Linked DNA regions of Homo sapiens. The protein of the gene in region 1 interacts with the protein of each later gene in a pairwise test. Each region holds a gene or a part of one and is shown on either strand. Other genes may lie near its edges.

The links.
Region 2: the proteins of ABHD16A (region 1) and TMEM65 interact in binary tests that used the Homo sapiens proteins (3 or more experiments, as listed by UniProt).
Region 3: the proteins of ABHD16A (region 1) and GOLT1A interact in binary tests that used the Homo sapiens proteins (3 or more experiments, as listed by UniProt).
Region 4: the proteins of ABHD16A (region 1) and TSPAN2 interact in binary tests that used the Homo sapiens proteins (3 or more experiments, as listed by UniProt).

What each region holds. Positions count from the first base shown.
Region 1 is NC_000006.12:31,699,129-31,708,260, reverse strand, and holds the start of ABHD16A (phosphatidylserine lipase ABHD16A), read left to right. Parts: upstream 1-4,936; 5' UTR 4,937-4,979; coding exon 4,980-5,111; intron 5,112-5,302; exon of another isoform or gene 5,303-5,492; coding exon of another isoform or gene 5,493-5,649; intron 5,650-6,130; coding exon 6,131-6,187; intron 6,188-6,920; coding exon 6,921-6,987; intron 6,988-7,169; exon of another isoform or gene 7,170-7,232; coding exon 7,233-7,319; intron 7,320-9,132. Other genes in the region: LY6G6F (lymphocyte antigen 6 complex locus protein G6f precursor), read right to left, coding at 127-390, 474-803, 1,303-1,354; LY6G6F-LY6G6D protein precursor, read right to left, coding at 127-390, 474-803, 1,303-1,354. UniProt on the Homo sapiens protein: Phosphatidylserine (PS) lipase that mediates the hydrolysis of phosphatidylserine to generate lysophosphatidylserine (LPS). LPS constitutes a class of signaling lipids that regulates immunological and neurological processes.
Region 2 is NC_000008.11:124,313,228-124,322,015, reverse strand, and holds part of TMEM65 (transmembrane protein 65), read left to right. Parts: intron 1-1,824; coding exon 1,825-1,930; intron 1,931-7,954; coding exon 7,955-8,056; 3' UTR 8,057-8,788. UniProt on the Homo sapiens protein: Essential for maintaining proper cardiac intercalated disk (ICD) structure and function as well as cardiac conduction velocity in the heart.
Region 3 is NC_000001.11:204,210,013-204,218,948, forward strand, and holds the start of GOLT1A (vesicle transport protein GOT1A), read right to left. Parts: upstream 3,977-8,936; 5' UTR 3,895-3,976; coding exon 3,870-3,894; intron 1-3,869. UniProt on the Homo sapiens protein: May be involved in fusion of ER-derived transport vesicles with the Golgi complex.
Region 4 is NC_000001.11:115,046,417-115,052,197, reverse strand, and holds the end of TSPAN2 (tetraspanin-2), read left to right. Parts: intron 1-1,642; coding exon 1,643-1,708; 3' UTR 1,709-4,187; downstream 4,188-5,781. UniProt on the Homo sapiens protein: May play a role in signalling in oligodendrocytes in the early stages of their terminal differentiation into myelin-forming glia and may also function in stabilizing the mature sheath.

The DNA.
Region 1 (9,132 bases):
GGTGAAATCTCGTCTCTACTAAAAGTACAAAAAATTATCCAGGCATGGTGGCGGGCGCCTGTAATTCCAGCTACTTGGGAGGCTGAAGTGAAAGAACATCCCTTTCCGTCTCCTTCCTCAGTTTACCTGCCAGGCTAAAGCTGACCCCTTTGTTGTGAGTCATGAGGCAGCGGATGATTCTTGGTCTTCGGCTCCTGGGCTCAGAAAGCCCCTCCCCAGGACACACCAAGAGCAGGGCAGCCTCACTGCCCCAGAAGGACTGAACACGGCCCCTCACGGGACCCTTCCCTTCCTGCCAGGTCACAGAGTCCATGCGTCTGCTGGGGACCACAGAGCACAGGAGGACATTGCAGGGGGATCCATCTGCAGCCCTTGCAGATAACTGGGATCCTGTAGGGGAGAGAGGGATTCCTCAGTTCTTCACCTGGACTTCCTGGGCCACAGTAGCCCCTGGTCTGCATGCCCCCACTCACCTTTGAGCACCAAGACGTCGTACACCCTCCAGTTCTGGTAGTTGTGGTGCTGACCTAGCACAGCGCACCAGTACCGCCCGGCATCTTCCTCTTTGGATCCCTCCAACCACAAAGAATAGTTCCCCAGCAGTCTGAGCCTGGATTCCCTTCCTGGTTTTCCAGGGTCTGGGGCTGGCCTGCCCACTTGGACTTGGGCTACCAGGGTGGTGAAGGAGCCTGCTGCAGGGCTGCAGAACCATGACAGGTGTTCGTCCCCATGTAGAGTAGGTGGTGAGGGACATGGCAGCTCTACTGCCTCCCCCAAGGCCACATAGATGGCCTGCATGTTGTCTGTGGGAAGAGGGTTGTATGAGGCCAGAGACCTCCATCAGATCAATAACCCCCCATTTGATCTTCAACCCTGGCTTCCTTCCCTTCTGGGGTCCCCCAGCACAGGCCTGGCTGGTGACCACATTTCTCAAGTGACAGCTACAAAAATAAGACAGGTGGAGAGAAGAGGGTAAGGGCTTTCCTCCTCTCTCCCCCAGCCAGTGAGGGGGTCTGAGGGCAAGAGGGAAAAGGCTGAAAGTTGGCAAATGCCCACATCTCTTCTACTCATTTCTACTTTTCTGGAAGCATTTACTCATTCTTCTTATTTTATAAAGGAAACTGCATAACCTGGACCCTCGTTGCCTCTGGGTCTTCCCTAGTGTCAGAGGCAGGAGGAGGTTGGTTGGGGTAATTCTATCTTCTTGAGTCAGATGCCTTCGCCAGGCTCCTAGGAGAAAGAGCAGTAGTCCCTCCCCAACCTTGCAAATAGCTAAGGAATCCCGTACCTCTTGCCCCTTACCTGCAGCCTGGGGAGTTCCACATAGGAACAGGAGGAGGAATAAGACTGCCATGGGGAGAGCCTGCCAAGTTCTCTTGCTCCAAGACCTGGTGTCCCCAGGGAGGAAGCAGAGTCCAGATAAAGGCCCACACTCGCTGGTCTGGAGTGACAAGGGGCTCTGGAGGGGATGGGAATGCTGGGGCGATAAAGCCCAGCAGCATGTCTACTAGGGATAAAGTGACCACCACTTTTCTATCCTGGAGAGAAAAGGACCCAGCCCAGGCCACTCTGAAGATGACCTTTTTGCTCTTCTGATTCCACATCAGCTAAGGGGCTCAAATAAAGACTTTCCATGCAAAAAACCATGCAGAGAAGTGGTCCTGCCTGTCTAGCTCTTGTCAGTCTGGAAGTACATTCTGAGGTCTCTTTCACTCCTAAGAAAGGTCAGCCATGAGTTGGGTGGATCACTTGAGGTCAGGAGTTCGAGACCAGCGTGGCCAACATGGCGAAACCCTGTCTCTACAAAAAATACAAAAATTAGCCAGGCGTGGTGACATGTGCCTGTAATCCCAGCTACTTAGGAAGCTGAGAGGCACCAGAATCGCTTGAACCCGGGAGGTGGAGGTTGCAGTGAGCCGAGATCGTGCTACTGCACTCCAGCCTGGGAGACAGAGCGAGACTTCATCTCAAAAAAAAAAAAAAAAAAAAAAAAAAAGAAAAAGAAAAGAAAAGAAAAGAAATGTCAGCTATGAGTGAAGAAACTGAGTTTGAGTTTTTATGTTGGTCCTCCACAGAACCCAGCACAAGACTGTGTATCGAGTCAGTGTCCCGTAAATGATTTGGAATGACTTTCCCTGTGGTTGTCTGGCATACCCCGGACCTCTCCTGAAACCCTAATAAGTGTATTAAATTATTACTCAGGGACAAGGCTAACGGGCTGATTCATCCTTCTGAACGGCAAAAACTCCTAAGGCAGATCTTCATGCAGTTATTACAGTTTTAATGTGTAATTTATTTATTTTTAAAATTATTTTGATGAAATATTCCATACATACCAAAAACTATATGAAGTACAACTATATAATGGATAAATGCTTAACAGAGTAGAAGACTGGACAGCAATGAGAATGAACAAACCTAGTGATTTGCAACAAAGTTGAATCTCACAATATAATGAGAGTAAAAGAAGCCTGGCCAGGCATGGTGGCTCATGTCTACAATCCTAACACTTTTGGAGGCCAAGGTGGGAGGGTTGATTGAAGCCAGAAGTTTGAGGTTGGGCAACAGAGCAAGACCCCAACTCTGAAAATAAAGGCCAGACGCCGTGGCTCACGCCTGTAATCCCAGCACTTTGGGAGGCTGAGGCAGGCGGATCACGAGGTCAAGAGATCGAGACTATCCTGGCCAACATGGTGAAACCCTGTCTCTACTAAAAATACAAAAATTAGCTGAGTGTGGTGGTGGATGCCTGTAGTCCCAGCTACTCAGGAGGCTGAGGCAGGAGAATCGCTTGAACTCAGGAGGCAGAGGCTGCGGTGAGCAGAGATCATGCCACTATACTCCAGCCTGGTGACAGAGCGAGACTCCGTCTCAAAAAAATAAATAAATAATAAATAAATAAATAAATAAATAAATAGAATATTCCAGGCCGGACTCGGTTGCTCATGCCTGTAATCCCACCACTTTGGGAGGATGAGACAGGCGGATCACCTGAGGTCAGGAGTTCAAGACCAGCCTGACCAACATGGAGAAACCCCATCTCTACTAAAAATAAAAAAATTAGCAGGGCATGGTGGTACATGCCTGTAATCTCAGCTACTTGGGAGGCTGAGGCAGGAGAATCGCTTGAACCCCAGAGGCAGAGGTTGTGGTGAGCCGAGATCGGGCCATTGCACTCCAGCCTGGGCAATAAGAGCGAAACTCGGTCTCGAAAAAAAAAAAAGAAAAAGAAATAGAATATTCCAGGCCAGGCACAGTGGCTCATGCCTGTAATCCCAGCACTCTGTGAGGCCAAAGCAGGAGGTTCACTTGAGCCCAGGAGTTCGAGACCAGCCTGGGCAACATGGTGAGACCTTGTAAAATTAGCCGAGTATGGTGGTGTGGGCCTATAGTCCCAGCTACTCAGGAGGTTGAGGCAGAAAGATGGTTGAGCCCAGCAGGTGGAGGATCAGGGCAGTGAGCCGTGATTGTGCCACTGTGCTCCAGCCTGGGTGAAAGAGCTAGACCCTGTCTCAAAAAAAAAAAAAAAAAAAAACAGAAAAAAAGAATATTCCGTTTCAGTCAGAGATCCTCTATGCTGTGTAACCACAATTCTGAATTTTCTCTTTCTTCTCCACTTGCTTTATCATTAAATTTTATGTGTTTTTGAATCTAATATACTAGTATCACGTATACATTCTTCTGTGGCTTTCTATTTTCACTCAGCATCATGGTTTTAAGATCCAGTTCATGCATAACAGTAATGATTCATTTATTTTCTTTTTACAAATATTCCGCATATCTTACTGTGCTGAATTTTCGTATCCAGGACCATGGTGTAGCTTTCCATTTATTGAAAAGCTTTTCGTTTACCTCTTTCTTTTTTTATTTTTTCAATTATTATTGTTATTATTTTGAGGCAGGGTCTGGCTCTGTCACCCAGGCTGGAGTGCATGGAGCGATCTCAAACTCCCGGGCTCAAGCGACCCTCCCACCTTGGCCTCCCAAGTAGCTGGGACTACAGGTGGGCACCACCACACCCTGCTAGGTCTTTTTTTTTTCCCCCTTGGTATTTTGTGTAGAGATGGGGTCTCACTATGTTGCCTGGGCTGGCTTGGAACTCCAGGGCGCAAGCAATCCTCTCTCAGCCACCCCAAGTGTTGGAATTACAGGCATGAGCCATGGCCTGGAACTCCTGGACGCAAGCAATCATCCCTCGGCCACCCAAAGTGTTGGAATTACAGGCGTGAGCCACCGCGCTGGGCCAGTTTACCTTTATTTATTTATTTAGAGACAGAGTCTTGCTCTGTCACCAAGGCTGAAGTGCAGTGGGAAGATCTCGGCTCACTGCAACCTCTGCCTCCCGCGTTCAAGCGATTCTCGCGTCTCGGCCTCCCGAGTAGCTGGGATTACAGGCGCGCACCACCCATGCCAGGCTAATTTTTGTATTTTTAGTAGAGATGGGGTTTCACCATGTTGGCCAGGCTGGTCTCGAACTCCTGGCCTCAAGTGATCCCCCCGCCTCGGCCTCCCAAAGTGCTAGGACTACAGGCGTGAGCCACTGCGCCGGGCCGGGCCAGTTTGCCTTTTCAATAACTTTTTATAGTTTTCTTCATAAAACCTTGCATTTCTTGTACTAGATACATTCCTAGACACCTTATGTTTTCGGTTACTCTTATCAAGTACTCCTAATCTCACCCCTCGTTTCCGCTGTCGCTCTAGAGTCTGCCAATAATGAGACAGAAAAAAATTATTGAACCATGCCCGGTAATTTTCTGATTCTCCGCGTTCTAGTGGTCTTCCACTAGTTTCGGACCACTGCTGTACCCGTAGCTCCAACTGCGCGAAACTCTTCTCAGGAAGCACTGAAAATGTCGCAACTCGCCCGGAGGCGGAGCCGGTACGGGCTGACGTCAAGGGCACACAACACCTCAGAGGCAGGGAGGGCGGGGCCGGCAGGGGGACCTGCTGCTGGAAGAGCAGCGGCCCGAGCCGGGGCCATGGCGAAGCTGCTGAGCTGCGTCCTAGGCCCCCGGCTCTACAAAATCTACCGGGAGAGGGACTCTGAAAGGGCCCCGGCCAGCGTCCCTGAGACGCCAACGGCAGTCACTGCCCCCCATTCCAGCTCCTGGGTGAGTCGAGTTCCTCCCCACCGAAGAACGTGGTACAGTCCAAACCCTTTACGGCCTTTTGCTCCCCAGAAGTGCCCATAATGGGAAATAAGGGGAGCCTGCTTGTCAAGCCAGTTATCCGCAAAATCTGCGCTCTGTGTGCTTCCTGAGTTAAAGTCACGCCTACGGACTGGCCGCCTCCTTTCTTTTTCGCTCTTTACCGCTTTCTCATTCCGACTGCCACTCTTTGTTCTTTCCTCTCCGCGTCCCCCCGACCCTGTGTGTCGTGGTTCGTGCCGGTCCCAGTTGAGTCTTGAGTCCCGGGAAGAGACCCTGCGCGGACTGGGGAGCCGTTGAATTTTGCTGTCAGACTCCCAGTTTCCTCTTCTTCAGTGCCTCTTCATGCCTCCCCCGGCTCTGTTTTTATCTTCCCTTTACCCTCGCCTTGAATTTCAGAATGACTTTTACAGATCCTGTATCCGTCGGTCCTCCCCTCAACCCCCGCCCAACCTAGCCTGGAGACCCGAGTCATTGTATTCTGGAGAGCTGGCGGGTGGTGGTAGGCTGTTCTAAATATTCTCTTCCTTTTTATCAGTTGTCTCATTGTGTTACTGTCTCCTACAAACTGCCCGCTCCTACCCACATTCTCTTCTTAGTCAACTACTCTTATTTCTGATGCTTTTCTTTCCTTCTTAGATTGTCTAGGTGTCTTTTCTTTCTTCTCAAACTAACCCTTCTCCCCACATGCACGCGCCTGCAATCCATTTGAAACTAGGCTGTGGAAAAGGAGCAAAAATCGTCCAATGCTGCTTTCACTTTTGCTTCCAAATCCAGCTCCCTGTGTTTGTTCCCATGGTCAGGGGTGGGAAATTAGGTTCAGAGTGAGGGTGAGGAAGAGGAGTTTCTGTGGGGGCCAGGGATGTTTCAAGAGAGATAGTCAACGAGACTAGAACCAGAGGACACACAGCAGGGCTTCTGAAAGGGAAGGGAAAGGACCTGCCAGTGGGCAGGGTCCTTAAGGAGGCCATCTGTTTTGGCAGGATACGTACTATCAGCCCCGTGCCCTGGAGAAACATGCTGACAGCATCCTGGCACTGGTATGTCTACCCTGGCATCTGGGACTCTGCATCTTTCAGACCCACCTGTCCTCTTGAACTTAGCCCTCCCTAACTTGGGAGCAACAGTGCCCTGGGGTTGGGGGATGCCCTGGGCTCTGCAGCAGACCTCTCCAACACAGACACACAGGCACACTCTAAATGTGCATACTTGGCACTCCCCTTTGGTATGTAGCACTGCTTTCTCTGGGGGCAACCTGAGCCGTAAGGAAAACATGTTTACTCTTGGGACCATCTGCAGGTGCTAAGTCCTGCAGTTCCCCAGTGACCTGTCCTCCCTGGCAACTAACCTCTTTGGCTGCAGGGACAGCTGTTCTTTCTGGCACAGTTCCTGTGGTGACGTTTGCGCATCTCTTGGGGACCAGGCCAGGGGCTGTCCTGAGCAGGGCCAATTGAAAAGGCTTGATTAACTTGAGTAGACAGAGAGACTGCCTTTAAATGTGATGGAATTATGTCTGGAGATGGAAGACATAATTCTTCCATAATTCCAGAGGAAGAAAATAGAGCCTGTACCAAATTTTCCCAGCCTCCATTACATTGACACACTACTTTTCAACAAATACTGAGCACCTACTGTATTCATGGTGTCATACACCAAATATGATATGATATCCCTCAGGTTGTCCATCTTGCTCAGAGTGTATAGTATATGCCTGGAATGGCAGGTGTGTGTGTGTGTGTGTATTGATTGCCTGTCCCTGTCTCTCTGCTGCAGGCTTCAGTATTCTGGTCCATCTCTTATTACTCCTCTCCCTTCGCCTTCTTCTACTTGTACAGGAAAGGTCAGTGTGGTTTCAAAGGTGGTGGGGTAGCAAATGGGCAGGTTGTTGGCAGATGAGCCAGCTCCCTAAAGAGGAGAGGGGACCTGTGAAGATGGCTTGGCTTCCCTCTTCCATCAGGCATCTTCTTCCTCTTAGGGTATGGCTGTTCCAAACAGGGAGTGTGGGGTGGAGGTTGGGGCTGAACTGGGAAGAGGAGCTGAGGGACATTGCGGAGAGGGTCTCACATTGTCCCTCTCCCTTCCCAGGTTACTTGAGTTTGTCCAAAGTGGTGCCGTTTTCTCACTATGCTGGGACATTGCTGCTACTTCTGGCAGGTGTGGCCTGCCTCCGAGGTAGGTGGAGAGGAAACCTGGTTTGAATCTTATCTGTCACTGTCACTGGTTAAAAATTAAGTACCTTGTGCAAATACATTTTAGTGATGGGCCTCCGAGAGGGAATCATTGAGAATGGTTTAAGGCATGATCTTTTCCTTAAAAGACTTGGGTTATAAATATGAAAAAATAACTGAAAAGTAACAAAAAGGTTTGCTTTTTTTTTTTTAAGAGATAGGGTCTCACCATGTTGTCCAGGCTGGTCTCAAACTCCTGAACTCAAAGTGATCCTCCCACCTCAGCCTCCCGAAGTACTGGGATTATAGATGTGAGCCACTATGCCTGGCTGCTTTTATCTAGAAAAGATGCATATACCCTACAACAATTCTATATATGTATACATACTAGGAAAACTCCTGCACATGTATAAACAATATAGATGTACAAGAATACAGCATACAACATTGTTTGTAATAATCCTAAGCTGGAAACAACTCCAGTGGCTACAAATAGTAGGATGGATAAAATATGTTCTGTGTGGCCGGGTGTGGTGGCTCATGCCTGTAATCCCAGCACTTTGGGAGGCAGAGGCCAGTGGATCACGAGGTCAGGAATTTGAGACCAGCCTGACCAACATGGTAAAACCCCGTCTCTACCAAAAATACAAAAATTAGCTGGGCATGGTGGCACGTGCCTGTAATCCCAGCTACTTAGGAGGCTGAGGCAGGAGAATAGCTTGAACCTGGGAGGCAAAGGTTGCAGTGAGACGAGATTGCGCTACTGCACTCCATCCTGGGCAACAGAGCAAGACTCCGTCTCAAAAAAAAAAAAAAGTTCCATGCAATAGCCATGCAAGAGAACACTATATAGCAATGCAAATGAACAAACTGTAGCTACGCTCAACAACGCAGATGAAGCCAGGTGCAGTGGCTCATGCCTGTAATCCTAGCAGTTTGGTAGGCTGAAGCAGGCAGATCACCAGAGGTCAGGAGTTCAAGACCAGTCTGTCCAACATGGTGAAACCCCGTCTCTACTAAACATACAAAAAAAAATTAGCCAGGTATGGTGGTGAGCACCTGTAATCCCAGCTATTCGGGAGGCTGAGGCAGTAGAATTGCTTGAATCCAAGAGGCAGAGGTTGCAGTGAGCCAAGATTGCGCTACTGTACTGCATCCTGGGCAACAGAGCAAGGCTCCATCTCAGAAAAAATAAAATACAAAAAATTAACTGGGCATGGTGGCACATGCCTATAGTCTTAACTGCTTGGGAGGCTAAGGCATGAGAACTGCTTGAACCTGGGAGGCAGAGGTTGCAGTGAGCCAAGATAGCACCACTGCACTCCAGTCTGGGTGACAGAGCGAGACTCTGTCTCCAGATAAACAAAAGCAATGCAGATGAATTTCTCAAATGTTGTGTTAAATAGAAGAAGCTAACCACAAAATAATGTATGCAGTATGTTTTCATTTATATAAAATTCAAAAGGGATGTGCATGTTTGAGGTAGAACACCGAAGACAACAAGGGCATGGTTTTCTTTTTTTTTTTTTTTTTTTTTGAGACGGAGTCTCGCTCTGTCCCCCAGGCTGGAGTGCAGTGGCGCGATCTCGGCTCACTGCAAGCTCCGCCTCCCGGGTTCACGCCATTCTCCTGCTTCAGCCTCCCGAGTAGCTGGGACTACAGGCGCCCACCACCACACCCGGCTAGGTTTTTTTGTATTTTTTAGTAGAGATGGGGTTTCACCGTGTTAGCCAGGATGGTCTCAATCTCCTGACCTCGTGATCCACCCGCCTCGGCCTCCCAAAGTGCTGAGATTACAGGCTTGAGCCACCGCGCCC
Region 2 (8,788 bases), on another chromosome or scaffold:
ATATTTCATTTTTCTTTGTTTTCTAGAATTAAAATTTCAAATTTACTTTTTCTAAACTAATAGTACTAAATCTTTGGTATCCATCAAATATAGATGCCTGGGTGATATCCCAGTTATACATTATTAGTGTCTCTGGAGAGGGAGCCCTGGCAGTTGTGTTTAGTAATTTTCATGAGTGGTTCTGATGTATGCAAAAGTTTATTCTAAATTTACCATAATGTAAGCAAAATGGAATTTGTGTTTACTGAAGTATTTATATGTATTTTATAGACATCTCCAAGGGTAAGACAGGAGTAAAAGGAAGAACCTCTCTCATTATTCCACCTCACCCTACTCCCAGAAAACCCAAAGAGAAGGGATATGGCTCGAATTTGAGGATACTGACTAGACATGTTTTCTAGAGGGGGGAACTTTCAAAGGAAATAATGGCCAAAGCATATATGGGTTTGGCTGTTTTTTGCTCTCTTTACTTTATGTGGCAGGAATAATGAAACAAACTAAGGACATCTATTTAGAAAAGGCCAGCTTTCTCTCTCTCTTTACATTCTTGTTCCAAGTAGCAGATGGCCTGAGTTGCTTCCTGAGCTTGGGGAAGCCTGGGGGAGTATAAATTAGACTAAGTGGACATTATTATGATAAATATGCTCTGTCTTGCTCTGTCTTTGATTTTGTCTCTTCTTTCCTTGACTCATTTGAGTGTTACAATTTCAGATTTGAATTTTTTCTTAGAAGTTTACTTAGCCCTATAATCTAGGCAAAGCAGCTTTTTAAGTGATCTAACCTTAACCTTTTATATTAGACTTCTGCACTGGAGTTTGGGGCCAAAGCCACAGTTAAAAACAAAGTTTCTTTGTTTTAGGACCATGGCAAGAATTTTATATTCTTCGAATTCCTGGCATAAATGTATCATGATATCATCTCTTAAACATTCTATTCCCAGTTTCCAACATTAAAGTAAATAATGAGAATATTACAGTCATTGTATAGCTTTCTGATATATTTAATAGAACCAAATGATCTAAGAGATTTTAAAGCCATTTAGCTATATATTGCATCATAAAACAATTGTTTTTGTTTAGAGATGAAGATTTTTCTGGAAGTCTTTGTATTTAAAAACTATTTCTCTTCTCTCTTTTGGGGGGTATCATTCAATAACAAATACCACATTTTAGGCATTCTCAGATGCATTTTAACGTATCTGATATCAGGATCCATCTTATTGTTGGTAGTATACATAGTTTAATTAGCAATATTTTTTCTTTCTTACAGTTCATAAAGTAAGGATGTATCCAATAAATGATGGCAACTTAGAATTGATAAAATACTTGAGATTGGCCTGACAGTTCTAAGGTGTTTTTGTTAGTTTACCAATCTGAGGAATTTTGGAAACTTTTGCTGTCTGATAAGTTACTAATTTGTATCATATGTTAAAGTGCTTTGCTTTGAGTTTGGAATAATTGCAGAAATTCTAATTATCTGTACAAATTGTTACATACCTTGAATTGTTTTTAAAAATAATAATAGAGAATACTTGCTCTGTCATTAATTTTCCTTTGTGTTAAATATGTTAATAAAATATTTTTAAACAATATATGCAATAAAAATTAAAAGTTGTAAAGAATGTTTATGTCATTTCTAGAGTACAAGTGCAAATGTAAAATTATCTTGTTTCTCCTTGTAGTAATTAGTTTACTATATGAGGACATTTGCATGTCTTTTTAAAAACCTATATTTTGTCCTCATGTCTTTGTTTTGTTTTGTTTGCTTTTGTAAAGGCTTTATTGAAACATAACCTATATATCATATTGTCTTGTTTCTTCAAAGACTTGCAGGCTACGTTGAAGCATTGGCTTCCAGGTTAGGCCTGTCAATTCCTGATCTCACACCAAAGCAAGTTGACATGTGGCAAACACGTCTTAGTACACATTTGGTAAGTAATTTACATGGTTTATGATAATGAGTTGGGTAGCCAGAGCAAGATTCTGTATAGTTCAGGCCCTTGAGAAATTTGAGACTAAAATTGGTTTGAATGGAGTTTTTAACAAAAATTGTCTAGACGTTGGCAGTTTTCAGAAGAACAGTAATTTGTGTTATTAACTCCTTATTTTTTGTAGGTATACTTAATTTTTAAAAAATATTTTGTAATTCACTTAGTATTAGGGAGTATCTCTTATAGGTTGGGGTCTAAAGAACATAAAACGAATAATAAACTGTGGTTATCCTTGAGGAACTTGTTTAGGTGGAAAACCAAACATATAAACAAATTATAATTTGGTATGACATATGCAGTAATGAATTATGTACAAGATATAACCATGATACAGGTAAGGGAATTAACACTGTGGGGAGTAACTTCTTTTGGTGGGGAGATTTCTTGGTTATTATTAGATCTAAGCCGATTTTTGAATTATAGATGAGACATTTACTAGATGAATAAGAGGAGTTCCAAGCATACTGACTAGCAATTAGAAGAGGATGATAAAAAAAGGGTATATTTAGGTAAATACAAGAACCGACTTTAGGAATATAATATATAGTAGCTGTAGGTATAAGCAGCAGCAGGAGACAACATTGGAGAAGTAAGCAGGGATCAGACAGGAAAGCTATTGTATGTGAATGCTAAGGAGCTTGAGCCTCTTACCTAAGTGATGGAGAGCCAGGGGAGTTTTAAGTAAGAAGTAAACTGGATGGATCATGATGCCATCAATAAAATCAAGAAAAAAAGGAGGAGGAATAAGCTTGTAAGGGAAGATAATGAGTTCTATTTTGGACGCATTGAATTTGAGATACTAATAGGACATTTGAGTGGTGACACCTAGTAGGCATTTAGGTTAGAGTCAAGAGTTAGATAGGTCAGAGTTAGTGATAATGGGTATTGTCACTCCTTCATTCAACAAATACTTATTGTTTACGTATTATATGCCAAGTAGAGATACAGGAGTTTTGAATACATTGGTTAACAAAATAAGATCTTATTTCTGATAGATCTTACATTCAAGCAGTGAGGAGACAGACAATAAACAATCTGATAAATAAAAATATTTAGCATATTAGAAGTTTATATGTGTTATGAGAATAAAAAGGGAAAACAGAGCGAGGTAGAAGAGGCTAGGAGTGCTAGGATGGAAGCAGACTGCAATATTCAATAGGAGAGTCACTGTAGGCCTCACTGAAAAGGTAGATGATTGTTCAAACCATGGGAGAAGATGAGATTTCATAGGAGAGTGGTTCTCAAAATGTGGTGCCAGCATCAGCAGGATCAACATTACCTGGTAACTTCTTAGAAATGCAAACACTCAGTCTTCATCTTAGACCTATCTATTATTGTGTAAATTATTGCAGCTGGATGGGGTGGCTCATGCTTGTAATCCCAGCACTTTGGGAGGCCGAGGCGGGTGGATCACCTGAGGTCAGGAGTTTGAGACCAGTCTGATCAGCATGGTGAAACCCTGTCTCTATTGAAAATACAAAAATTAGCTGGGCGTGGTGGCAGGCGCCTGTAATCCCAGCTTACTCAGGAGGCAGAGGCAGGAGAATTGCTTGAACTTGGGAGGCAGAGGTTGCAGTGAGCCGAGATCAAGCCATTGCACTCCAGCCTGGGTGACAGAGTGAGACTCCATCTCAAAAAAAAAAAAAAAAAAAAAAACAAAAACATGCAAATTCAGCAGCTTAAAACAACATATATTTGTTATCTCTCATTTTCTGTGGGTCAGATCAGGAATAGCTTAAATGGGTCCTCTGGAAGGCTGCAATCATGTCCAGCTAGGACTTCGTTCCTGTCTAGAAGCTCAATTGGTGATGAATCCACTTCCAGGCTCACCCAGGTCTTTGGCAAAATTAATTTTTTTGTGGCTGTGAGGGACCTAACCTCTGGCTTGCTGTTGCACTCTCATGTCCTGGAGGCCTCCCTCCATCTAGAGCAAGCTTGTGCAACTCGCTTTTGGTAATCCAAAAGTTTACCACAAATTGGTAAACTTTCTTAAAACATTATGAGATTTTTTCTGTGATTTTTTTTAAGCTTATCAGCTATCGTTAGTGTTAGTGTATTTTATGTGTGGCCCAAGAAAATTCTTCTTCTTCCAATGTGGCCCAGGGAAGCCAAAAGATTGGACACCCCGATCTACGGGTCACCTGCAGTTCTTTGCCATGTGGCCCTCTCAGTAGACCCTCTCACAACATGGCAGCCTGCATCTTCAGAGCCAGCAAGGGAGAAAGGGAATGAGTCTGCTGGCAGGATGGCAAGATGGAGCCTTATGTAATGTAATATAATCACAGGAGTAACACCCCATCACCTTTCCTATTACTCAAAGCAAGTTAGAGCATCCTACCTATGCTCAAGGGGAGGAGATTATGCAAAGACTTAAATACCAGAAGGAAGGTATCATGGAGGCCGCCTTAAAATGTGCCTGCTACAGATTCACAAAATGAAAAGTTCTGGAGACGGAACCCAGCAATTTGTGTTTTAATTCTGTTGTACATTAAAATTTGAGAACTGTTGTTCCAGAGAAAATGTGCAGAATTAAAGAACCCTAGAAAATACCTAAGAGCTCATAGTCTTATGGGAGCTATCAAGGACGAAGTTTTAAGAAGTAATGAATGATAACCAATTCCTCTTGATATAAAGAAATCAAATAAAATTTCTGAAAATTTTTTTTTGTTTTTGGATTTGGTATGTAGTTGCTCATTGATAATCATTTCTGAGCAATTTCTATGGACTGATGGAAGAAGAAAAATCAAATGACAATGAATTGAAACACTAACGGGAGGTGAAGAAGAAGAATAAAATATAAAATTAATGTTAAGTTAGATGGAATTTATTTTAATGAAGATATTGAATGTTTTGGAAGTAAACAATTTTTACCTGCAAAATATTCATACAGAGTACAAAAACATACACATAGGTAATATAGAGTTAAATTCATCACTAATCACTTTAAATCACTTTAAATCTGCAATAATTACTACCCTTTAAAATATGAGTAGTAGAAGGATCACAACTATACCAGGGAAGTGTTTGCTTTTCAATCAAAATGTAGGAAGAGTGTGGAGAAACAAAATGAGGACCTATTTGCTTGTTGTAATTTTTACTTTATAAAGGTTGAAAAGTCTTTTAAGAAAGTAGAATGTTAATTTTGGGCTTTTCCTTTTAGTTTACATGTGTCCATATCTTACAATTTGTAAGTAAAGTGAGACTAGCCCCTGATACCAGCTGGAGTTTTGAGGGAATAAGGATATTCTAACATTCTAGCAATTTGTCTTAAAAATTTTAGCATTAAAGTTGGGATCAGAAGTTTATTTTCCTGGGGCATAATAATTGTTTTCTTTCTGTATTAAAAGCAGGTTCATTTTCTCTTCTCTATGACAAAAGCATCAGATTACTAAACTAGTATTACTATATTGAGTGTGTGTGTGTCTGCGTGTGTATTGTGATAAACCCCTCACTGGTTTATGGCAACAGTGATTCTGTTCCTTAGTTGTTGACTCTGCTTGTTTTTAGAATCAAATCTTCTACTCTGTAACATAACATTTTGATTCTATACAGCCTGAAGTATTTGAAGTTAGTGACCAGCCATCTACTCATGACAAAAGCTAACTCTGAAATTTACCCATGATAGAATAAATACAGATACACATGCAGGTTCCAGTTGACACAGGTGTATTTTAAAACCTCACTTGTAATTTGGTTGTTTGAAATTCAAAAAATATTTTCTTATAAAACAGTATTACAGATGGGACTCAAGTTCTACAATTAGCCCCAGTGTAGTTAACTATGGGGCCTAGAGTATTGTAAGACATAATGATAATGTATAAATAAATGTTTTCACAATGGAAAAATTTGTTTCAGGTCCTGGATCAGGGAGTGAGAAAAGTATATCACTTTTTTTCCTCTTCTCCACCCTATTGACATTATATCTCTTGAGATAATTGGGTCAGAAATCACTGACTGGTATTCCTAAAGTGAGGGGCAAGGAAAGCCTTGGTTGCAAGAGGAATTTAACAGAATGGGTGGGAAGTGAAAGTGGGGCCTATTGGCAATGGTTATTTTCTGTATATGGGAAAGTCAGGAGTCTGAAATAGAATATAATGATTTCTCTATGCATATATTCAAATGAGTAAATATGTTAAAGTCAAAAAACAAGAAGCTAGGATTAACTTTATCAGCATGTGGAATGAAGAAAATTTCTTCTTGTTAAAACTCTGCATGAATGATACCTTTTAAAGTTTTGGCATAACGAAAATAACAGTTTTGACTATTAATATCAAGCAGTGGTCATACTACTAATACCACTACCACCACCAAAAGCCTCAAAATAAGAGTTGAAAAATTTTTATGCAAGCTATTGTCAAAATATTAATGTCTACTATTAAATTTGTTAGAAAAACTGTAGGATGTGGGCTGGGCGGGGTGGCTCACACCTGTAATTCCAGCACTTTGGGAGGCCGAGGCGGGTGGATCATGAGGTCAGGAGATCGAGACCATCCTGGCTAATACAGTGAAACCCCGGCTCTACTAAAAATACAAAAAATTAGCCGGGCGTGGTGGTGGGCACCTGTGGTCCCAGCTACTCAGGAGGCTGAGGCAGGAGAATGGCATGAACCCAGGAGACGGAGCTTGCAGTGAGTCGAGATTACATCACTGCACTCCAACCTGGGCCACAGAGAGAGACTCCGTCTCAAAAAAAAAACAAACAAAAAAAAAACTGTAGGATATGATAGCTAAATAGACAATGTATAAGAGAAAACATTTCATTCAAGACTAAAGATTATGTAGCTATCATAGTAACTGTAATGTTTGATAGAACTTATTTTGTCTTTCCCTGTGTACCTAACTAGAAGTTCCTGGAGGAGAGAGACAGACTGCATAAGATTAGTCCATCTCCATGGTACACCCAGTACAGAGTTTGACACATAGTAGCTTCTCAATAAATATTTGTATGAGGAAATGAAACTTAATTGAAAAGTATATAAACTTGATAGTCATCATAGGAATGCAAATTTTGAAAACCATTTACAAAAATAACAATTTTAAATTTTTATAATGATCTGGGTGTGGTGGCTCCCAGAGCCTGTAATCTCATTTGGGAGGCCAAGGTGGGAGGATTTCTTGAAGCCAGGAGTTCAAGATCAGCCTGGGCAACATAGGGAGACCCTGGCTCTACAAAAAAAAAAAATAATAAAAGTAACAAAATTATCTAGGCATAGTGGCATGTGTCTGTAGTTCTAGTTACTGGGGAGACTGAGTCAGGAGGCTCGCTTGAGCCAAAGAGTTCGGGAAGAGATCAGGAAGATGGCTTGAGCCAAGGCTGCAGTGGGTTATGATCATACCACTGCGTTCCAGCCTAGGTGACAAAGGGAGACCCTGTCTCTAAAACAAATAAAATAAATAAAAATGAAATAAAATTTTTATAATGTAGGTGAAGTTGCAGGATAATTGGTATGTGTGTCTACATTTATGTATACTGAAATTGCTATGTAAGTATGTGCAGCGTTGTCAAGGATGAATGCTTCATGAAGATGCACAAATATTAATACTGTTTGACTTTTAAACAAATCATTGGGGAAGAAATATACATGGAAATGCTTATTGTTATTTCACTTATAATGTTGAAGAAGTAGCAGTGGCTATGGCGGTAAAGAGAGATTTAAGTAGAATATAGACCCGTCAATTCAGTTGAACTTAGAAGTCTTTAAGTTTGTGTAGCAGTTTGGAAAAGAGTTTGTGAGAAAATGTGTGGCTATGCAGGGGTACGGATTGAGGAAGAAAACAAAGCTATGTTTACATAATGATTATATCTACATATAATTAGGTATACACAGGGATAAATATTGAAGAGGAATATATATGAAGGGTAGCAAATCCAAATATATTGAGAAGAGCTGGTGAGATTTTTTCTCTGCCTTCTTGTTATCAGAGATAAAGTAACTTTAAAAATGTTCTCTTTTGTTTCCTTAGGGCAAAGCTGTTGGGGTGACTATTGGCTGCATTCTAGGAATGTTTCCTTTAATTTTCTTTGGAGGAGGTGAAGAAGATGAAAAACTGGAAACGAAAAGTTAATCCTCTTAGAATACCTATAAAAAGATGTAAACTAATGTACCTCAGTAATTAAATATGCTGTCACAACATTTAGGAATTAAGACAGTAACAGTATAGATATGGGATCAAATAATTTAGCATGTATTATGGAAAACACTAACTTATTGTGGCTTGATCTTCTTAGGACATCTTTTTTAAAAAGCTGTTTAGTATCATTTTGTGTATATTGTTGAAATGCTTTTTCATCAATAGCAGTCAACATTTTATCCTTTCTTTTTATATTCATAATGTTATTTAAGTGTCATTGATGTACTGTATTGACTTGGGGTTTGCTTATTTGTTACTTAACATGTGTACATGCATGAAAGCATTTTTCGTTGTTCCCTGATAGTTACATTTCAACCTTGGGATTTTTCCAAATTACTTAAGATGTTTAATGTCAGTTAAAGATTTTTTTACCCTCTTTTTGGGAACATCAATTTTGTACTGTTATGCAGTAAACATTTATAATAATATAATTTCAGTCATTTCTTAACTGTCACATCTATTGAAAATGGATATAGATACAGGTTTTAAGTATTTTAAGTATATATTACTTATTTTAATTTTCTGACTTTACTATTTTAAGGGCCAGAGGGTTAATCACAAAGAGCAATTATGTGGTCTCCCTGCTACATGAAACCGTGTATACTAACAAGCGTACAATTTTTAGTTGATTTTTTTTAACCTTTTAGTTTCCCAGTTTTGAATAAT
Region 3 (8,936 bases), on another chromosome or scaffold:
ATGCCATTGCACTCTAGCCTGGGCAACAAGAGTGAAACTCCATCTCAAAAACCAAAAACAAAACAAAACAAAAAATAAAAAGTGCCTTTAACCAACCCAGTCCAGTCCACTTCTGCAGGCAATGCTCTTGCCTTGGCCATTAATGACCTTCATGTTACCAGATCCAATGGGCAGGTGTGAACCATCATCTGTTAGAACTGACCACTGCCGTGTTGAAACAGCCTTTCTCTTGGTTTGTGCACAACACGTTCTTGATTTTCTTCCTACTGCTCTAACTGCCCTTTCTCTGTCTCCTCTGCCAGCTCCTACTTCTCTCTCTTCTTCTTGGGATTTGAATTGCACAGGGCTTGTGCCCAAGCTCACTTCTCTTCTCATTCTATTTCCACATGTATTCCCATGTGTTTATTTTTGTTTTTAATTTTGTCTTAAAGCTGGGATCTCGCTCTGTTGCCTAGGCTGGAGTGCAATGGCACAATCATAGCTCACTGCAGCCTTGAACTCCTGGGCTCAAGGGATCCTTCTACCTCAGTCTCCTGAGTAGCTGGGACTACAGGCACTTGGCCACCATGCCCAGCTAATTTTTTAAAATTGGTTTAAATTTTTTTGTTGTTGAGACAGGGGTTTTGCAATGTGCTCAGGCTGGTCTTGAACTCCTGGCCTCAAGCGATCCTCCCAAAGTGCTGAGATTACAGGCATGAGCCACCACACCCAGCCTCTCACGTCTTCAAACCTCCCTTGTATGCTGATGACACTGATGTCTCTCTTTCTAGTCCATGCCTCTCTTTGGGCTTTGAAACTCATATCTAGCTGCTTACTTGGCATATCTGCCTGGTTTTCTCTCAGCCATCTTGAACTGGGCTAATCTTCAATCCCAAACTGGTCTATTTATCTTCCCTCCTTCAACTTGTGCCTCCCTTGGTTGTCCTCAAATGAGTAAACATGTCACCACCGCCCACCCCACCACTTAACGCAGAAGCCCACCCCTCCCCCATGAAATCCACAGCTAAGTTTTCTTTTCTTCTTCCAAGATACATGTTGAAAGCTGTCCATTTCTCTCCATTCTTAACACCTAATTCCCGGCCACGATCATCTCTTTCCTGGACGTATGCAGCAGCCCCCATTTGGCCTCCTGCTTTATTCCTGCACCCTCCCAGTCCTTCTCCACACGGCGCTCAAAGGTCTTGCAAAACATACAACCTGATCATGTTAGCATACTGCCTAGACTCCTTCACGGCTGCCCACTGAGATTAGACTGCAGCAGAGCCTTCTCATCCACACCACAGCTCACAGGCCCTGCCTGGTGGGGCCCAGGCCTGCCTGCCCACCTCATCTCCTGCCACTGTCCCTATTGCCTGCCATGCTCCAACCACACTGTTCTCCATGGCTTCCATGTGAGCCCTCTTGACTCAGGGCCTTCGTACATGCAGTTTCCTGGTCTGCAACACCCTGCCTCTCACTTGTTACTTGACAATGCATCCTCATCATTCAGGTCTCAGCTGAAATGTCAGTTGCTCAGGGAAAGCTGGTCCACTCTCTTCCCTGACCTAAATCCCTCATTTCTCTCTCTCACAGGACTTGCTTATCATATTTGGTAAGAGTATATTACTTGCAGGCTAATTGGTTTAACAAAGTGTCAGCGTGCCACTGGGTTGAGGACCCAACCCACCTCTCTCTATATTTTTATTCGCCAGGTCCATGATTCTCAACTGGGCTGAGGGGATTGTGGGTGGGGAAGCGGGGTGCGGGATGGAAATTTGTTTCCCAGGGGACATCTGGCAATGTTTGAAGACATTTTTTATTGTCACAACTTGGAGTGGGGGTGCTACTGGCATGTAGTGGATAGAGGCCAGGGATGCTGCTGATATCCTATAATGTACAGGACAGGCCCCCACAACAAAGAATTATCCTGCCCCAAAATGTCAATAGTGGGGAGGTGAGAAACTGTGCCTGCCCTCGGTGATCTCATGGATGCTCATAGTCCTAAAAACCATGTATATGCAGATTATTCCCACATTTCTGTCTCCAGCCCAGGCCTCTACCTGGAACTCCAGACTCACATACCCAACCACCTACCTGACATCTCACCCGGATGTCTAACAGCACAAACAGACTCAACACATCTAAAGCCCAATTCCTGCTTCCCCCCACTCAACCCTTCCCATTGCACAGGCTAAAAAATATACAAGGCATTCTTGACTCCTCTTTCTCTCACACCCTATGTCCAAACCGTCAGCAAATCCTCAACGCTTTCCTCAAGGCAGATCCAGCATGGACCACGCCCCGCTAATCTCCTGCTAACACCTTGGTCTCCACCTTCACACACTCAGGACTGGCTTCCCTGGCTGGGCGCGGTGGCTCACGCCTGTAATCCCAGCACTTTGGGAGGCTCAGGCAGGTGGATCACTTGAGAAGTCAGGAGTTCGAGACCAACCTGGTAAACGTGGAGAAACCCCATCTCTACTAAAAATACAAAAATTAGCCAGGTGTGGTGGTGGGTGCCCGTAACCCCAGCTACTTAGGAGGCTGAGGCAGGAGAATCGCTTGAACCCAGGAGGTGGAGGTTGCAGTGAGCAGAGATCATGCCACTGTACTCCAACCTGAGCGACAGAGTGAGACTCTGTCTCAAAAAAAAAAAAAAAAAAAAAGAACTGGCTTCCCTGCTGCTGCCTTCATACCTCCACAGTCTATTCTCAACCCAGCACCCAGAATGATCTTTTAAACATAGAAATAGAACATATCACACCATAGCACAAAACCAAGGTCATTACCATGGTCTATAAGTCTCCAGTGTCCTGACCCCTCAGTGACATCCCTGACCTAAACTCCTATGATTCTCCCCTCACCTCACTTTGCTCCAGGTATACCCACCTCCTTGTTGTTCTTCAAACACACCAAGTATGCTAATGCCTCAGGGCCTTTGCACTGCCTGTCCCTGCTTCCTGAACATTTCCCCTCCAGAGAGCTGCGTGGCTTTGCTTCCTCACTTCCTATAGATCTCTGAAAAAAGATCTGAATAAAGGCTCACCTTCTCAGTGAGGCTTCCCTGACCACTCTATATAAAATAGCGACCCCTCCTACCTCGAACTCCATAGCCTCCTCTTGTTTTATTTTCATCTGGAGGACTTATCATCTTCTGATATACTATATACTTCTTTCTGTTAATTACCTGTCTCCCCTCTCTAGAATGTAAGCAGGGAGTCAGTTTCATTTAATGTTGGACACTCTATATCCAACACAGTGCTTGGCACACAGCAGAGACAAATCTGTTGAGTGAACAAAAGAATGTTGTCACCAATTCTCAGATGAAAAACCAAGGCTCAGAGGCTTTAAGTAACTCACCCAAATGAAGCCCACAGAGCCACGGTTCTTCCCATGGCCCCAGACTTGTTCCAAGACCTCCTCCCTACCTCTTCCCCCAAAAGAAGGGGAAGGATGTTTAGGAGTGAGGGTATGGTGGTTTGGTCAGGGGAGTGGAGTTTAGTTTTTTATAAGAAGCCCCCAGGGCCACAGGAGACCTTGATGGTGTGGGGAAAGATGTCTGAATGGGCAGAGGCCTCCTGAGTCCACCTTTGTGGCAACCCAGTTCTAAGAACCCGGGATGGGAAAGGGGTCAGTGTGAATGGGGAACCTGCCAGGCCCCCTGGGCACCAGCCTCTAGCTACCTGTGGGCCCTGAGCAACTCCCACCCGCTGGAGGGTAGGGAGCCACACCCCACCCTGCCTGCTGCCCCAGGGTGCCAGCACAGCATCTCCCAGCCCCTGGCTCCAGAGGTCACGCTTGTAGTGACAGAGAGCCCAGCTGGGAGAGAGAGCCAGCCGGCAGGGAGCCTGGCCTGGATAGCCCATTGCAGCCCCGCTCATCCCACTTACTCTGCCATTCGGTGATGGAGATCATGCCGCACTCAGCCTGGGGGGCTTTCCGGGTGGAAGCGGGCAAGTGGAGCGTGGCCCAGAGGACGCAGCTGGTACATGGTCACGGGAAGCTGACCCTTGGTTAAGTTGCGAAATGAGCCTGTGGCAAATCATTAACTCTCCCTCCAGCCCCCGCTCCACCCCCGCACACCACGCAGGTGCTTCTACTCGCCAGCTCCCTCCTCCCGTTTTCCGGTAGGGCAATGCCCCGCCCCTCCACCTGCCGCGCCTGCCCGGGGAAGGCACCGCCCACCTGACCCTTTCCTCGCACCTCGCGGTGTTCTGCGGCTCTCGTCTGCTCCGCGAAACTTAGATTGTATGTGGAAGCATTGGAATCTAGGGGGTGCTCAAGTTTCTTGCTTGGTTTGATAGTGTGGGAAGAGTTGGCATCTGCGCATCCCTTTGGGAATGTACTAAATTCATCTTGAAAGTCAAGCTTTTTGCTCTCTGCTATTGCACATGCTAGGCGCTGGGAGGCGATGAGCGACTGAGCACAAAGCCTGTTGTTGACCTAATGGCAGAGCCAGATCGGGTTAAATCAATGGCAAAAGCGCCATGGGGGAAGTTAGACGTGAAGGTCTTCGACCTCCTTTCCCCAAGCGGCGTCCAAGCTTTGGACTGACTGTGATGTTGAGCTATGGAAGACAAAGCCCTGAATTTGGGGTTGGGGCAGGACTGCACAATTTAGGAGGCCTGGTTCTAGTCTACCCACCAGCTGTGTAGACATGGATTCGTCCTTTGGGCCTGCAAAAAGAGAGGCAGTTAGTTCCTAACATCCTTTTTTCCCATCGCAGAGCAGTGGTTCTGACGTGGCATTGATGCCAGGAGAGCCAACATCCACTTTGCAATGTCTTCTGTGTCCAGAAATGAAGAAATGAATTTCAAAGACTACCTATATACATCATTTAAAAATGCAAATAGGCCTGGCATACAAAATGCATTATGTCTGTAATCCCAGCATTTTGGGAGGCCAAGGCAGGAGGATTGCTTGAGCCCAGGAGTTTGAGACCAGCCTGAGCAACATAGTGAGACCTTGTCTCTACAATAATAAAAATAAAAAATTAGCCGGATGTGGTGGTACCTGCCTGTAGTCCCAGCTACTGGGGAGGCTAAGGTAGGAGGATTGCTTGAGCCCAGAAGGTCGAGGCTGCGATGAGCTGTGATCAAGCCATGCACTCCAGCCTGGGTAGCAGAGCGAGATCCTGTCTCAAAAAAAAACAAACCAAACAACAACAACAAAACCAAGGAAAGCTAACATAATTTTTTAAAAAGAAACAAAAAGATAAATTATAATAAAACATGATGTCTTTCAATATATAAATGTTCAGGCAAGACTTACCAGAAGACATAAATGAAATAGGCAGATTGCTTGCACCCACACATAATATATGTTTGAATTTAAGAGAAATAGAAGATGAGCCATTCTATGCAAAAACAAAAATCACACACATGCAAGAAAATGAAAGAGTAGCAGGAAGTGAACATAGAATAAAAACTGTTAGATAAGGAATAACAGACCAGACGTACTTGCATATGATGAGAGGGAAAGCATCTTAATTGAAATAGGGATAACATAGCAAGGCAAATTAGAGAGCACAAGGTGGAGATAATATAGAAGTATGATGTGCATGCAAAGGAACTCAGTCTTAGGTATGTGTGTATTGTCAAAATAGCTCCCATGGAATGGGGTCGCCATAGAGTACCACAGACACATCAACCTCTGTCTTGAAACATATCAGCGTTGAGGTAAAATTCAGTCTCTGGGATCTTAAAAGGCCTTAGAGATCACATATTTCCAATGGGCAATGGGGGATAGAGGATGGATTGGGAAAAGAAAAGAAGATAAAAGTGGTTTAGAGCAATTGCATGTGGACACCCGGGACAGTGTTGTAAAGACAGGACACAACATTTCCACACATAATTATGACAACATAGCATCCTTGGGCTCCAAAAAAACTAAACATATAAAGGATGGCAATAATATGAAATAAACCCTAAAAACTTTTATTAAGGAAACTCAGTGAGATCTTCTGCATCTCAAGTGTCTCTGATTCCATGTTTGCTTCTCTCACATATCCTCTGTTAAATATTTTCAGTCAATTTCTTCGTTTATTCAGTATCACCTACTGATCAGAACTGTTTTCAATCAAATACATAGTAGCTGAAATCTTATAATCCTTTGTGTAGACAATGCATGGAGTAGATTATTCAATAATTTTAAGACAATGTCTTTATTCCTTTTAAGCTTCTGCTCCATAATAACCATCTCCTAACTTTCTGAGTGTTCATGAAATTTATTTTTAAAAGCTTACAAAACCTTTTGGTATTACTGTCAATTGAAGTATGACCAACTTTTACTGGTAGTGGGTTTAGTTCAGTTGTACATTCGAAAGTAGTACAGGATATGGGACAATTCTTTGTTTTGGAAATCTGTCCTGTGCATTGCAGTCTCGAAATGCCAGCAAGAGTTTTGCACCCTTATGATTGAGACAACCAAATGCCCCTAGGGGCCAGAATCATCCCTGTTGAAATCACTCGTAGGTTAAGAGCTTCATCCTGGCTTCGTGAAGCCTTGGGCATTTTATTTATCCTTTCTGTGCCTCAGCTTCTTGGATAATTATAGTACCTATGACTGACATAGAGGATGAGGATTCATGAGTAAATGCATGTGAAGTGCATAGAACCAGGTACCTGGCACATAGTAAGCACTTAATGAACCACTGTTATTCCTGTTACTGTATAGTTATAATAATTACTATTGTTATTAATGTTATTATTAGTATACTGTTAATATGCTTTATATGAAAGACTTCTACTGTCATCTCAAATTGTGGTGCTAAACCACTCCCGCAGGTGTATAAAATAGCAACTGGGGATGCCCCTTCCTGCCCCCACCCCCAGCCATGGAACCCACCTGTGAGCTCAGGAGAATTAAACGCTCATGATACTGGGCCCTCCGGGCCTGATTCTCTGGGTACTGGAGCTAAGCCCAGAGGCGCTGTCCACAACTCATCCTTCTGGAGAGGGACCTTCATAGGGACAACGCCGGGAAGGCTGGTGCTAGTCCTCGACCCATGGCAGTCTCATGACCCTGCCATGATGAGAAAAGTGTGGGGTAGTGCAGTTACTCCCTGGGCTGGAGGCATAGAAGTGGCAGGGGAGGGACACCTCAGGGATGGCACGGGCCCTGGTGATGTCTTCCAGCAAAGGCTGTAGAGCTAGTAAAGGAGGGGTCCTGGAAAACCTTCTCCCTCTTCCCACATCAGGCCCCTGCAGGTGGCCAGGGAGCCTTTGCAACATCACCACTTCCACTTCCTCACATTTGGAAGTGAATTTGAGTTTTCAAAGTGATTTTCATCCATTTTCTCATTTGTCTTTCTTGAAAGTTCCATAAGATGGTGGTTAATATACCCATTTTCCAGATGAGGGAACTGAGACTCAAGAATTTAATGACTTGTCCAAATCTTCATGCAGCTAGCAAGGAGCATGTTGCTAGGGGCAGGAGTTGAGGATGACATGCCACCTTCTCTCATTGGTCTCAGTAACGAGGTGAGGCTCGGGATGAGGAGGGGGACGTGGCGTGGCCCCAGTTCCCTGGCAGCAGCAGGGTCTGAGGCTTGGCTGCCTGCCTGACCCTGTCGTGCCTGTCTTCAAGAATAAATAAGTGATCATGCAGTTACACAGCTCTGCTCCTTAAAGGACATTCTGCTATTGCATTTTCATTTACATTTCTCAGCTACTACCCCCTTTTTACAAATCCCAACCTGGCTTGATCTGGTAGGGGATGGAGCAGGCACCAGCTGGCATCATCTCTTGAGAGGAGGAGGCAGCCCTTGTCGGTGGATGCAGTGATGCCCGGTGGTACTCTGTGGTCTCACATTCCACCTCCTCCCCAAGCCCTTGCCACTGGCTCTGGCTCAGATGGAGCCTGAAGATAAAGGCTCAGCCCCCCAGAAAGTGACGAGTTCTCCAATATGCATCCCCCTACCCCAGCCTCTGATGCAGGCCCTCCCCCAGAGCCTACATCTGGTCACAACTCTCCCGGGTTCACAAAGGACATCATCCTGGGGATGTGACAAAATCCAAAATAGAGTCGAATCTTAAAAATGACCTCCCCCGTACTAGCCCTTAGAAATGGGAACAGGTGTCCAGAATTCAGCTTCAGCCATGAAAGCCAAGCCGATGCAAGATCAGGAATTAGAGGAAGCTTGCTTTCTCATCTCTCCTTCTCGCTTTTTCTTGAGCCATCCCTCCCTCGGACAACATGCAGAAGCCCCGCTGAGCCTGCCAGTCTCCCGGGCGCACCTCTTCTCTTCCACTACCCACCCCACAAAATTTACCAGGCTTCTTGACTCTTGGTCCCCACAGTAAGATTCCAAATTGAGAAGCACTGGTAAAGCCCTTCACACAGAGTGTCAATACCTGATAACCACAAAACACCTGCCAAGAGAAATAAACCAAAGGGATGGAGGCAGAATGAGAACTGGGGTGGTCTCATACCTCCCACCAAATTATACAACTTCTTGTAAAGCAGCAATATAGCGCATTGTGTAGTAATCAAGAAAGGCTGGGAATTCATTCTCTTCTCCTGCTGTCCTGTCCTTTGTATGAGTCAAACCAAGGGAAGGTGCCAGGGCCTGAAGCATCTGATACTGCCATTATACAGAACCTTGGGGCAAACCCTGATCTGGGGTCACCTGAACTGAAATGATGATGCTGGTGTTGGTAGCATACCCTCGCTTCCCCAGCTCCTGGGGATGGAGGCCAAAAAGTGCAGGCTGAGGCACAGGGGAGGAAGGAGCACATGTTTTACACCCAGCCTACCTCCCAGCCCCCATTCCCCTTTCCTGCCAACCCCACAAGCTGCCAACCCCACAACCCCACAAGCACCACAAGGGCAGACACCGAGTAGGAGACACACACCACATATACAAACCATTCATTTTATTTCCTGTATTGGGTTTATACAAACTTGCAAGATACAAATGCAGAACTCACTGGGATTCTTCAGTACCTAAATCTAAA
Region 4 (5,781 bases), on another chromosome or scaffold:
CTCCAAATCAAGGGACATTTCTCAGGTCCTCCCCACCTGCTCTGGGGATAGCCTGGCTGCAGTTCTGCAGCTCCCCAAAGGACAGTCCTGAGGCAGGTCTGAGCGTGTGCTGCATAATGGAGAGTTTCACAATCTCAGCAAATGAGCAGCCTAGAAGCATTCACCCCTGACTCGTGTCGGCAGTAGGCTGAGACTGAAGGAGTCTCACTGAAACCAGGATGGGTAGGGATTACATCCAACCTTATGGCAATGATAAAGGGGAAATGCCCATAGTGAGCCTATCTTGAGTCGGCACCCCCAGGTTTCTTCGTTAGTTCTTTTCTCTGTAAAGTGAGAGTTGCACAATGTAATCAGCTAACTAAAAGTGCATTGGGTGTCGCCCGTGCTACACACTGGTACTGAGTCCTGTCATCCAGAAGCTTGAAATCCTGTTCCTGGCCATGCCCTTACCTGCTTCTGCCCCTCCCTTTTCAAAACAACTGATCATTCATATCTTATTGAATTTAGCACTTACAGATCCTAGTCTGACTTAGGATGGAATTGAGGAGAGAACCAGAAAGTTATAGTACCCATTTTTTAAAATAAGCATTGACAGTAGTTTATGGAATGGTGCCCACAGATAGGGTTCCATGGGCTCTACAAAATTGTAGGGGAAATAATAGCGGACAAGAAGACTCTTTGGCATTCTTCTATTCAAACCATGGAAGTGGATATTGATTTCACTCAAGTATTTAACTTCTCAGAGAACTATCCAAAAGGTAAAAGTCAATAATACCATAGTATAAACCCTTTAGTTTATGTTTTGCTAAAACTATTGAATTAAACAGTGAAGCATCGTTTGCCCTTAAAAATGGACTGAGAATGAAGTGATGCTCCACTTTTTTTTTCTTTTTTTGTGAGACAGGGTCTCTGTCACCAGGGAGTGAAGTGGTGCAATCACAGCTCACTGCAGCCTCGACCTCCTGGGCTCAATAATCCTCCCGCCTCAGCTTGCCAAGCACCTGGGACTGCAGGGACACACCACCATGCTCAGCTAATTTTTGTATTTTTTGTAGTGACAGGGTTTCACCATGTTTCCCAGGCTGGTCTAGAACTCCTGAGCTCAAGCGATCCTCCCACCACAGCCTCCCAAAGTGCTGGGATTGCAGGCATGAGCCACTGCACCCAGCTGATACTCCATTTTTGGATGTATGGACACTGTTGTAAAAAATCAGAGCTTTTCCAGCAATAGAAAATTATTTAGACCACAAGCATATCTAAACAACAAGTGGTTATGGACACAGTTTTCAAAATAAACATATAAAAGAGATCTAGGATTAACCTGAAATATAAAATTCCAAAGCCAGTATTGTGTCTGTCTTTCACAGGTATTCAGAACGGTTCTATAATTCTGAAGCAGGGTAGGTTCTTTTAAAGCAGAGCCTTGTTACTTGTTAACAATAATAATACACATTTAAACAGTTAATCTAGAATTATTTACCCCATAGCCAACCTTAAGTAACATACTAAAATGTCATTTGTGACTGGTAATTATTGGTTATAATTATTTGTTAACTTGAGTTAGACACCCAGGAAGTCTGCTGAACTTTTTACCTATCAGTACCCGTTTCAAAGTCACTGATGAGTGTTTCTTCTGTTTCAGATCTTTGGCATGATATTCAGCATGGTCCTCTGCTGTGCGATACGAAACTCACGAGATGTGATATGAAGCTACTTCTACATGAAAATTGCAATCTAAAGCTTTCATACCAAATGTCACAGGAGCTGTCTCCCAGCTCATTTTTAACACTGAAATGACATTAGGATCTAAAATAATTTGCTGTCAATTGTACATTTGCATGAGTACGTATGTTTGGCTCATTACTGGTTTACCCCTTGAGTGAATGCCTGTTTATGATGACTGAGAGCATATTCATGTGTGATCTGCGTGTTTCTGGAATATGCTTTATACGTAATGAAATCTGTTTGCTGGGAATTCCTGATTCTTGTTATATAAGAAGAACAACCTATTTCGCTCCCAGAAAAAAAAGATCAAAGAGCTTTCAGAAACTTTGAGAACTTGGCTATTTAGAAAAAGTGATAATGGGTCAGTTTCTCAGACTGTAGCCATTGAAAATTAGATGCAGAGAATTCAGAGATTTCTTCTTAATGGAAGTAATAAGCTGTAAGAATTGAGAGATCACAATGGAGTGTTAAAACTGACTGTGTCTAAGTTGGGTGTAAGGGTTTCCTGGGTTTTTTTATATACATGCTCTCCCCAGAATACAGTAAACCACAGTTTTAGAACTAAACACATCTGTAAAACTAAATATAGCATGGAAAATCCAATTTGAATAAGTCATGCTTTCCTAGAATTTAAAAATAAAAAAGTCTTCCTCTGGAAAGAGAAGTCACACAGACAATCATGTGCCCTATAAAAGTGAGTGTTTATAGGACTAAAAAACTTTTAACAACTTTTTAAGGAAATATTTTTGTTCTTATACAAAAACATGTAAATATTGCTTTATTACTTTCATTTTCTGACCCTGCTGTAAACTACTGCAACCCTCACATCCTCAAAGGGACTTTTATGTCAAACTCTTCTGTTTCTCCAAATATAAGGAAAAAAGACTAAAGCAAGAGATCTGGCAGTTGAAAATTGTGGGAAAGAGAATTTGTATGGGCACTGTATCTATGAAATACCTCATAACTTACGTTTACATGTTTTCCTAACTTTTTGTATTTTTCTTGTATAGCCACCTAGAGAATTCTTCATAGATTAAGAACTACAGTTTTCACCACTTAACATAAGTAAAACAAAGTCCTTCATAATTTAACCATTAGCATCTTTGGCCAAACCAAAATAAAGAAAAGCATCTTCTCCTAGTTGTGTGTGGGCAACAGAAACAAGTTAAGGAAACAAAAATACTTATATATACACAGAACAAAAATAATGTTCTTTTTATGCAAATCCCCTGTGAAAATAAAATTTTCAATGTTTTTTTGGTCTTAACGCTTCATTTTAACTTAGTAAACCCAAATTTAGGATTTACATTGGCAAATTTTTCAGTGATTTTTAACGTGTTACATTTAGTAAACCATAGATTTTTTAAAAACTACATTTTGTAAGGCCACACATAAGTGAAAATACGGAAGGCTTTGGAAACCCCCAGATGAACTTCTATACATGTGAAAACACAAGTCTTTGAGTGTGCACTAAAAGTGTCACACTCCCAAAAAACTCACAAAACATTTTGCTAAAAAGATATGACTGCTTGAAATAGTCTCTCTCCCATGGAGAACCACATTTCTCTTTCTGCCATACTTGCTACTGCTACTGATTTTGGAGGAAATTTTTCTAGAAGAACAAAGGTCATATTTGAGGCAAGCTAAAAACTTAATTATACATGGCTACTTTACTGTGTCTGTAGCTAAAGAAAAATTATTTTACAAAAATTACTTCATGAAATATAGTTTGTACCCCAGTAGTTGAGAAATGTGACCTTTTAGGCAAAGAACAGGCAGTCCATCTCTCTTAGCTTTAGTTTATCTCTCTGCCTGAAGACAGGAAACAGGCCCAAGTGCATACTCGGGTTCTTTCCAACTCAGAATCATCTCTGATTCCACAAAAGTGAGTTTAGTTTCCTATCTGAATTAACAACTTTAAAGGAGACTATAATAGTTAAAAGTGGAAGAATAGAAATAAATAAATTTAAAATGAAATTAATTAAAGTAGAAGAGAAGGGTTCTGTTCCATGTACGATTAATGTGCCCCTTTTGGAGATAAGCTTTCCAAAATATGCGTATGAGTAAAATTAGAGAATTCCACCACTAAGCAACAATAGATTTTATATGTGTGTGTGGATATATATACACACACACACAGAAAGATGAATATATATATATATATATCTGTATAGACACACATATAATATATATAGATATATAATCCCTATATATCTTGAATCTACAAATATCTTTATATGTATATAATTTGAATATATACATGTATGTATATACAGATGTGTGTGTATATATATATATACATACACATATACATAAATTTTCAGCTATTTCTGTTCCCCTGAACTAATTTGAGATTAGACCCAAACATGCTTTTAAATGTCTCATGCCAAGGCACTGAATTAAGACTTCTTAATGTTGAAATATTTTAAGTGATTTCATATTAAATTTTCTATATACTGAAATTGCTTGTTTGATTTATCTTAAAGTCCTATTATATCTTTCTACAAACCTTCACGCAACTTATCTAAATGTCAAACTACCAATCAAATAATGTGATTAAAAAAAAACAGAGTGGTAACCCTTCTATAATTTGCTATTGGTAGTTGACTTAAAAGCAACACCCTAAGGACTCTTACTGCATATACAGTCATCTGTCAGTATTCATAGAAGAATGGTTCCAGGACCCCCTGTGGATACCAAAATCCACAGATGTCCAAGTCCCTTGTATAAAATTGTGTAGTATTTGCATGTAGCCTATGCATATCCTCTCATATACTTTATTTTTTTAATTTTTATTTTTTTATTGTTACATAATAGTTGTACATACTTTTGGGATATATGGGATATTTTGATATTAGCATACAATGTGTAATAACCACATCAGGGTAATTGGGATATCTATTACCTGAAACATTTATCATTTCTTTGTATTGGGAACATTCCAGATCTTCTAGGCCTTTTAAAACATATAATAAATTGTTGTTAACTATAGTCACCTTATTGTGCTACCAAATATTAGAACTTATTCATTTTATCTAACTGTATTTTTGTACCCAGTAATCAATCCCTCTTCATCCCTCCCTGCCTGCTACCCTTTCCAGCCTCTGGTAACCACCATTGTATTTACTACCTCCATGAGATCAATTTTTATAGCTCCCACATATGACTGAGAACATGATTCATCTTGATGATATTTGTCTTTCTGTGCCTGGCTTATATCACTTAATATCCTCCAATTCTATGATGTTGCTGCAATTGACAGGATTTTATTCATTATTCAGCCATTGTCATGGCTGAATAATATTTCATCGTGTATATATAGCACATTTTCTTTATCCATCTGTTGATGGACTCTTGGGTTAATTCTGTATCTTGGCTATTGTGAATAGTGCTGCAATAAATATGAACATGCAGACATCTCTTTGATATACTGATTTTCTTTCTTTTGGATATATACCCAGCAGTAGGATTGCTGAGTCATATGGTAGTTTTCTGAGGAACCTCCAAACTGTTTTGCATAGTGGCTGTTGATTGTTTCCTTTGTTGTGCAGAAACTTTTTAGCTTGATGTAATCCTATTTGTCAATTTTTACTTTGGTTGTCTGTGCTTTTGAGGTTTTACCCCAAAAATATTTGCCCACACCAGTTTCCTGAAGCATTTTCCCAGTGTTTTCTTCTAGTAGTTTCATAGTTTCAGGTCTTATATTTAAGTCTTTAATACATTTGAATTTTGTGTAGGGTGAGAAATAGGGGTCTGGTCTCATTCTTCTGCATGTAGATAACCAGTTTTCTCAGCACTATTTGTTGAAGAGACTGTTCTTTCCCCAGTGTAAGTTCTTGGTGCCTTTGTCAAAAGTGAGTTAGCTGTAAATACATGGATTTATTTCTGGGTTCTCTATTCTGTTCCATTGGTCTATGTGTTTGTTTTTATGCCAATACCATGCTGTTTTGGTTACTATAGTTTTGCGGTATACTTTGAAGGAAGGTAGTGTGATGCCTCCAGCTTTTATTCTTTTTGCCAACGATTGCTTTGACTATTCAGGAGTTTTTGTGTGTG